Linked DNA regions of Homo sapiens. The protein of the gene in region 1 interacts with the protein of each later gene in a biochemical or structural test. Each region holds a gene or a part of one and is shown in the gene's direction. Other genes may lie near its edges. The genes, in order: KCNH2 and PASK.

What was found.
Region 2: of the proteins of KCNH2 (region 1) and PASK, one has a biochemical effect on the other in vitro, tested with the Homo sapiens proteins (one study listed by IntAct).

What each region holds. Positions count from the first base shown.
Region 1 is NC_000007.14:150,976,078-150,979,981, reverse strand, and holds the start of KCNH2 (voltage-gated inwardly rectifying potassium channel KCNH2), read left to right. Parts: upstream 1-1,660; 5' UTR 1,661-2,068; coding exon 2,069-2,144; intron 2,145-2,626; exon of another isoform or gene 2,627-3,137; intron 3,138-3,223; exon of another isoform or gene 3,224-3,238; coding exon of another isoform or gene 3,239-3,392; exon of another isoform or gene 3,393-3,446; intron 3,447-3,904.
Region 2 is NC_000002.12:241,142,918-241,146,721, reverse strand, and holds part of PASK (PAS domain-containing serine/threonine-protein kinase), read left to right. Parts: intron 1-3,647; coding exon of another isoform or gene 3,648-3,689; coding exon 3,690-3,804. UniProt on the Homo sapiens protein: Serine/threonine-protein kinase involved in energy homeostasis and protein translation. Phosphorylates EEF1A1, GYS1, PDX1 and RPS6.

The sequences.
Region 1 (3,904 bases):
TGCTGTGGAAGGCCCTGGGCCCCCGGGGGGGTGAGTGAGGAAACTGCTGGCAGTGGAGAGGGCCTGAGGAATAACTGCACAGGCAAGAGCCTCTGGACTTTTTTAGCATCAGCTGTGGAGCCACCTCCTTCTCTCCCACTGGCTGCCTCCCTGAGTCACTGCCCACCCACCAGCAAATAAAAAAGAGTGTCATCTGCTGGCCAGTGGCCCCATTTGGCCCCAGTGTTTGCATCTTTGTGCTCCTGGGTGGAAGGTGAGAGTCCGGGTAGGGTGGTCTCACGACGACAGTTTTCTGCGCCTTCCTCCTTCGGGACTCCGATTCCTTCCCTGCCCTTTGTTCTTCCCCTCCCCCCATGATGGTTCTCGCTGGTGACAAGACCCAGCCCCTGCTCCAAGGACAGAGGCAGCTGCAAGCCCTCAGGAGCCCCCACATGGCCCCATCCATCTAGACAGGTCTCTGATCCGGCTGCAGGGAGGGGACCCTCGGCTGTTCAGCTGCGACTCCTCCCTCCCCGCCCGCCCACTCAGCTGTCAACACTCGCCTCCCCGCCCTGGCCTTCCCGGGGCCCTGCCTGACTGCTAAGTCCGAGGACACCGCGCCCGGAGACCCTCACTCAGACGCAAGCAGGCGATGAGCAGGCGGCGGGGCAGACACCCCGCCTGCCCTTGAGCATCCCTAGGCCTCCTTGCCTAAATAAGGGAGCCGCAGCTGGAGCGAGCCAGCTGGCCGGGGGGAGGGGCCTGCGGCTAGGCCAGGGCTTTCCGAGGGGCTGGGCCGTGGCCGCCGCCGCAGGGCCCCGAGCCCGCCGATTGGGCGTGCAAGGCTGGCCCCGGGCTGCCGGGGGAGGGCGGGCCGCTCGCACCCGGGGATCCCCTGGTTGGAACCTCGCGCTCAGGGACCTCTCTTTGATCCTGCAGCTAGGAGGCCGCAACTGCTGTCAGAATGTCCCTCTCTGTGCAGCTCCTATGCAGAGCCCCACAGAGGGCTCTCTCTCTCTCCGTGTGTGTGTGTGTATGTGTGTGTGTGTGTGTGTGTGTGTGTGTGTGTGTATGTGTGTGTGTGTGTGTGTGTGTGTGTGTGTGTGTGTGTTGGGGCAGGGGGCGTGCCCCTTCTAAGTTTAACCCTCCCTTATTTCAGAGCTCTGCTGCTCTGGGGCCTTCAGATTGTCTTGCTTTTCCTATTTCCAGGGTCTCCCTTGACTCCGGGCTCGTCTTCGAGGGTCCAGGCGTTGCCCCGGTCACCCACAGTAGGCACTGAGCGCGTGCTGTGTATACCAAGCCAGTGCTCGGCGTGGTGGGGAACCAGGGCATAAGGACCCGCCGTTTCCCTTCAAATCAGGTTTCTTAGTCGCTAATCTGGGGTGGGGGTGGAATCCCTTCCCCCATCCCGGCCGCCTACAAGCCGGCCATGGCACCTGTCCTCACGGTTTCCCCTGCCTAAGGGTCCCTTCCCCCTCTTCTGGGCGCGCGAGTCCCAGGGGCTCCTTGGCAGAGCGAGGGGCTGGCGTTGGGGGAGCACTCGGCGCGGCTCAGCCAATGGGAAGGTCGGGCGCGCGCGGTGGGGCGGGATGGGGGGGGGAGAGGGCGGTGCTGCGGGCGCGCGGCAGGCGGGAGGGGGCCGGGAGGCGGGGGCCGGAGCCGGAGGGGCGCGCGCCGCATTAACCCTTCCGCGGCCGGGCCGAGCCGCAGGCGCTGCCCGAGCCGCGGGCGCTGGAGCGGCTGTCGGCGCGGTGGCAGGCGGGAGCCAGGAGTCCGGGGCTCGGGCGGGCGGAGCGCAGCGCGGGGACGCGGCGGAGCGGGCCCCGCGGCTCGGCGGGGGCCGGCAGACAGGTGTGCCGGCGGCGGGCGGCTCGCGCTCAGGCGGCTCCAGGCCGGGCCCGGGGTCCGGAGCGGGGAGCCGGGAGCCGAGCGAGGACCCGGCGCCCGCAGTCCAGTCTTGGCCGCGCCCGTGCTCGGCTTGGCCGCGGGGTGCGGGGACCACGGCCCGGCCGGGCCACCCGAAGCCTAGTGCTGGGCCGGGCCGGGCCGGGGTGGGTGGGGGCCCGCCCGGCCCGCCCATGGGCTCAGGATGCCGGTGCGGAGGGGCCACGTCGCGCCGCAGAACACCTTCCTGGACACCATCATCCGCAAGTTTGAGGGCCAGAGTGAGTGGGGGAGGGGGCTGAGCGGGGAGGGGGCTCTGGGGGCGGGCCGAGCTCTTCCGAGTGTGGATGGGGGGGCGTGCCCGGGCCGTGTGCGTCGGCAAGTGCGAGTCAATGGGGCCTGGTGGGCCCCAGGCTTTGGCGAGGGGACGGCGGGGGCAAGGCTTGGTGCACCGGGGCCGTGGGCACCGGGCCAAAGGGTTTGGGGTTGGGGCTTGGGGCGGGAAACTCAGCTCAGGCTTTTGGGATCGGAGTGTGTGTGACACGCTGAGTGTGCAGGGAAGGGATGTGGGATGGAGTGTGCAGGTGTCCCCAACTCTGGGTGCGTGGACGTGGATGGGGCTGTGTGCAAGGGCATAAGAGTGTGTACGACCCAAACCCTGGGATCCCGAGAGTCCAGCGCGCACACTGGTCTTGCCAGATCTTGACTGTGTTGTGCCGGAGGGACTGAAAAGCCGTGGATGCAGGGTCAGCTCATAATCTCTTCTTGTGTGTGCCGTGTGTATATAACCCTGAGCCCATGTGTCACCCGTGAGTTAGACCCTGTATGGGCGGTGGGGAGGTGTCTTTGACAAGGCTGCGAGCTTGTGGGCTCTGTGGAGACAGGGTGTCCTGGGGCTAGAGCTGGGCTTTGAGGGTAAGCAGCTCCCTGTGGTACCCCCAAGTTGTGGGTTTTCTTGCCCTGGAGACTGTCACCTAATTCCCTTATGGGGACCGGGAGTACAGCACCCCTAATGCCTGCCTGGTAGGGAGGCTTCTAGAAGGGTCCCAGATTAGGCAAATGTCCTGGGGGTGGGCAGCATTCATGTGCCTGTCCCTAAGGCTGCATGAGCCACAGTGGGTGTGACTGCCAAGGGCCCTGGGAGTTGGGAGAGGATGACATTCCTTGTCCATGACCCTGTGAGCACAGGACAACGCGTGCTTGTAACGGTGGTTGGGGGAAGGAGGGGTCAGTCCGATGGTCAGTATTGTGTGAAGCGGAGGAACAAGATGATCCTGAGGGGGTGGAGACAATGACACTGGTTGAGGGCCTCCCTGAGAGGTGGGGGTGGGCCCAGGGGGAGGCTGTGGGCGGGCCTACGAGGAGGCTGGGATGGATGTGGGGGGGGGTGCTGGATTCTAGCCCTACCTTTGCCACTGACTGCCATGTGACCTTGAGTGACTCTTCCCTCTTTGGGTCTCAGGTTCCAGGTCTGTGGAGGAGGGGCAGGCTTTCTGTCCCATCCCTGTATTCCAGGATCTCAGTGAAGGGTGTGTGGTGGGGTGGGGCATGCCTTCGAAGAAACTTGCTCTTCTTTCCCCAGCCTGGGAGAGAGGACAAGGGGTGGTTTTTCTTCTATGAAGCTGGGGTGTGTGGCTGGGCCTCTGGACTGCCTTGGACTGTGGCAGAGCTGGAGGCCGAGTTAGGGGGTCTTTTCAGGTGACAGGAAACCCTGACTCCTGGAATTGATGGCTGCCTGGGAGGTCTGGGGGGCCTTGGGAACTGGCCAAAAGATGAACCAGTTCCAAAAGGCAACTTTCTGGGGGCCAGGGGAAGGGAGAATCGAGAAAGGTGGGAGGAGGCCAAGTCCTGATGGCCTGGGCCTATCTCAGGGTGCCCTGCTGCAGCCCAGCTTTGCACGTAGGATTGCCTAGGGCTGCAACCTGAGGGCTATGCTTGCTGGGGAGGGGAGGGGAAGGGAGGGGGAGAATTCCAACTGCTACTGAAAGCCCCAGCATTACAGGCCAAAGTGGCCGGAAACTTCTGTTTATAAAAAGCTCTT
Region 2 (3,804 bases), on another chromosome or scaffold:
TAAGAAGTAGTTTAATTACATAGGTGTGTTTCCCTGAACTACTTATTTAGATTATTTCATGACAAAGGAATCCTCCTGCTGATTGTCTTCCGTAACTTGATTTTTTCCACTCGTATATGGCTAAGATTCACCCTTGTGTGTAGTTTATTTGTTTTCACTGCTGTAATTAGTGGTATGAATATACCAGAATTTAAAATCTATCTTCTTGTTAAAGAGTGTTTGGGTTTCATTTCCTTTTTTCCTCCCTCTCTCCCGCACTCCCTCCCTTTCTTCCCTCCCTTTTTTCTGCCTGTCTCTTTGCCATTGAGAACCATATTGTCCCGAACATTCTGGTGTCTTCTTATCTGTTTGCAAAAATTTCTCTGAAATATAAATCTAAGTGAAAAGTGCTGTATCCATATAGACAAATGTTTCACTTGAATTGTTTTCTAAAGAGATTATATTAATGTATTAAGAGTTCCTGTTGATCCAAATCCTTTTTGACATTGGGTATTACTAGATTCTTCATTTCTGCTGACTTAGTAGGTATAACATCATCATGATTAGGATTTCCTCTCCTGTAAAACGCTTGTTCCTATTTCTTGACATTTTTTATTGGGCCATGTGTCTTTTAAAAATGTTTAAATTTTAAATAGTTGATCTTTTAAAGCTATTCTGGATATTAATTTTCTGTTGGTTATGTATGTGGCAAATATCTTCTCCCAAATTGTGGCTTGTTCTTTCGTTTTCTTTATGGTATTCTTTGTGAAGCTGTGTTCTCATTTTTTTTTTTCTTTTTTTTGGGGGGGACGGAGTCTCGCTGTGTCGCCAGGCTGGAGTGCAGTGGCGTGATCTCAGCTCATTGCAACCTCCACCTGCCAGGTTGTGTCGCCAGGCTGGAGGGCAGTGGTGTCATCTCGGCTCATTACAACCTCCACCTCCCAGGTTCAAGCGATTCTCCTGCCTCTGCCTCCAGAGTAGCTGGGAATACAGGTGTGTGCCACCATGCTCAGCTAATTTTTTTTTTTTTAGTAGAGATGGGGTTTCACCACATTGGTCAGGATGGTCTTGATCTCTTGACCTCGTGATCTGCTTGCCTCGGCCTCCCAAAGTGCTGGGATTACAGGTGTGATGTGTTCTCAATTTTAACGTTAAACTTATTAATCTTATTTTATAGCTAGAGTTTTTTGTGCCTTGTTTAAGAAAACTTTCCCTACCCCAAAGTCTTACAGATAGCCTCTTTTCTCCTAAAAACTTAGTGATTTTATTTTATATTTTATTTGGTTTGACAGGTCTCGCTTTGTTGCCTAGGCTGGCCTCCATCTCCCTGGGCTCAAGCAATTATCCTGCCTTAGCTTCTAGAGTGGCTCGGACTATAGGTGCAGGCCACGAGACCTGCCTGGCTAAAAAGTTTAGTGTTTTGACTTCCACAGATCAGATCTTTTATGCCCTGGGCACCATAGTGAGACCTCATCTCCTAGTTAAAAAAAAAGATGGCCATGTGAAGATACATACAAACAGGGAGAAGTCGGCCGGGCGCGGTGGCTCACGCCTGTAATCCCAGCAGTTTGGGAGGCCGCAGCAGGTGGATCACGAGGTCAGGAGATCGAGACCATCTTGGCTAACACGGTGAAACCCTGACTCTACTAAAAATACCAAAAATTAGCCAGGCGTGGTGGCGGCTGCCTGTAGTCCCAGCTACTCGGGAGGCTGAGGCAGGAGAATGGCGTGAACCCGGGAGGCGGAGGTTGCAGTGAGCCGAAGTCGCGCCACTGCACTCCACCCTGGGCGACACAGCGAGACTCTGTCTCAAAAAAAAGAAACAAACAAACAGGGAGAAGCTCTGTGATGGCGAAGGCGGAGACTGGAGTGACGCAGCTGCAGGTCAAGAACACCAAAGATGGCCAGTATGGCCAGTAGCCACCAGATGCTAGGATAAGGCAAGGAGGGGGGACTCCTTGGAGTTCCATATTGGAAGAGGTGGTGTTGGGAGGGCCACCTCCCCTTTCCTCTTCACCCCAGGCCTGCCTTGTCTTGGAAGGGCCTCGTGTGGGCATCCTGCTAGCTTGTCCAAGCTCGCTATTCCTGGAAGGCTGCTCCTCAGCCAGTTCACGGCTATAGGTGTGCCAGTGTGGGAGGACCTGGGTGGAAAGAGGCCTGTGTGTGTCTTAGAAGTGGGCACCAGACCCTTTGGCTGGGAACTCTGGGGTTCTGGATACCCAGAAGGTGGTCCAGAAGAGGGTATATGGGGTGTGGTTGGGCTTGCCTTGGCCCCAGGGTCTCCTCATTTCGTGGGGGAAACTCCAGCCATGGTTCTGGTATTGGCCACAGCCTCCTCTTGCTGTTTATCTAAAGCCTGGATGACCAGGTGGGGGCTTCCTGCCAGTAGAGGAAATCTTCTTGCTTTAAGGGCTCTTTTTGTTGAGTTTGGCCATGAGGACAGGGTATTGGTAAATGTGTACTTGTGTTTCAAGTGCTTGCCAATATGCAGGATGGAACTCTTAAGTATCTCCACTCTGCAGGGTGGTCACATGAATGTATACATGTGACAAGACTGCATGGAACACGTGCTCACATGCGCGCACACACACACGCTCATGTACACATGTGCACACGCACACACACGCACGGACACACACGCACACCCACACACACACACACCTGCAGGTAAATGCCTTGAAATCTGGACGAGGCTGATGGATGGTATCAAGTCAGTTTCCTGGCTGTGACACTCTCCTGTAAGATGTCACCATGAGAGGGAACTCGGAAGAGTATGTGAGATTTTCCTGTATTTCCACCCTGTATCAGCATTTGAATCATGTATAAGAGAAAAGCTAAAAATACAAATCTCTGGTGCCAGGCCTGTCTCTAGGAGACATGGCCTCTTGGCCATGGCCCCCGCGACCTCACTTGTTGGCAGCACCCAGGTGATTCTGTGCACAGCTGGTCGGATGGTCAGGACTCACTGTTTAGGGGAAAGCTGAGACCATGGGAGCTGTGCAGCCCCCACGTGCTGATGGGTTCATCATGACCTGGGAGTATTTTCAGTTGGTGTGTACCTGCAGTCCCTGCCTTCCCTCATGGCTCCTTCCCACCCTGTTCTTTGTTTTCCTCTCTCTCTCCTTCCCTCTTTCCCATATCTTCCTATGTATTTTTCTTGGAAAGAGCTTCTTTTTTTTTTTCTTTTTTTTTGACATGGAGTCTCTCTCTATCGCCCAGGCTGGAGTGCAGTGGTGTGATCTCGGCTCACTGCAAGCTCTGCCTCCCGGGTTCACACCATTCTTCTGCCTCAGCCTCCCGAGTAGCTGGGACTACAGGCACCCGCCACCATGCCCGGCTAATTTTTTGTATTTTTAGTGGAGACGGAGTTTCACAGTGTTAGTCAGGATGGTCTCGATCTCCTCGATCTCCTGACCTCGTGATCCGCCCTCCTCAGCCTCCCAAAGTGCTGGGATGACAGGCGTGCGCCACCGTGCCTGGCCCGGAAAGAGCTTCTTTTAGCACCACTTTGGGTGGACCATTCTCCCATTGCGGGTTCTGACCCAGGATGGCGGTTGGTGGTGTATGTCTTTTGGGGCCGAGCTGAACTCAGCATTATAAATTAGTTGGTTAAACTGTCTTTGTGTTTTTGCATTGCAGATGTTAATCAGCTTCATGTTGTTTTCTAGTTGTTAGAGTTGGAAGCTTGGCAGTTGGCCTCCCTTCTTCCCATGGAGGACGGGGGCTTAACAGCCTTTGAAGAGGACCAGAGATGCCTTTCCCAGAGCCTCCCCTTGCCAGTGTCAGCAGAGGGCCCAGCTGCACAGACCACTGCTGAGCCCAGCA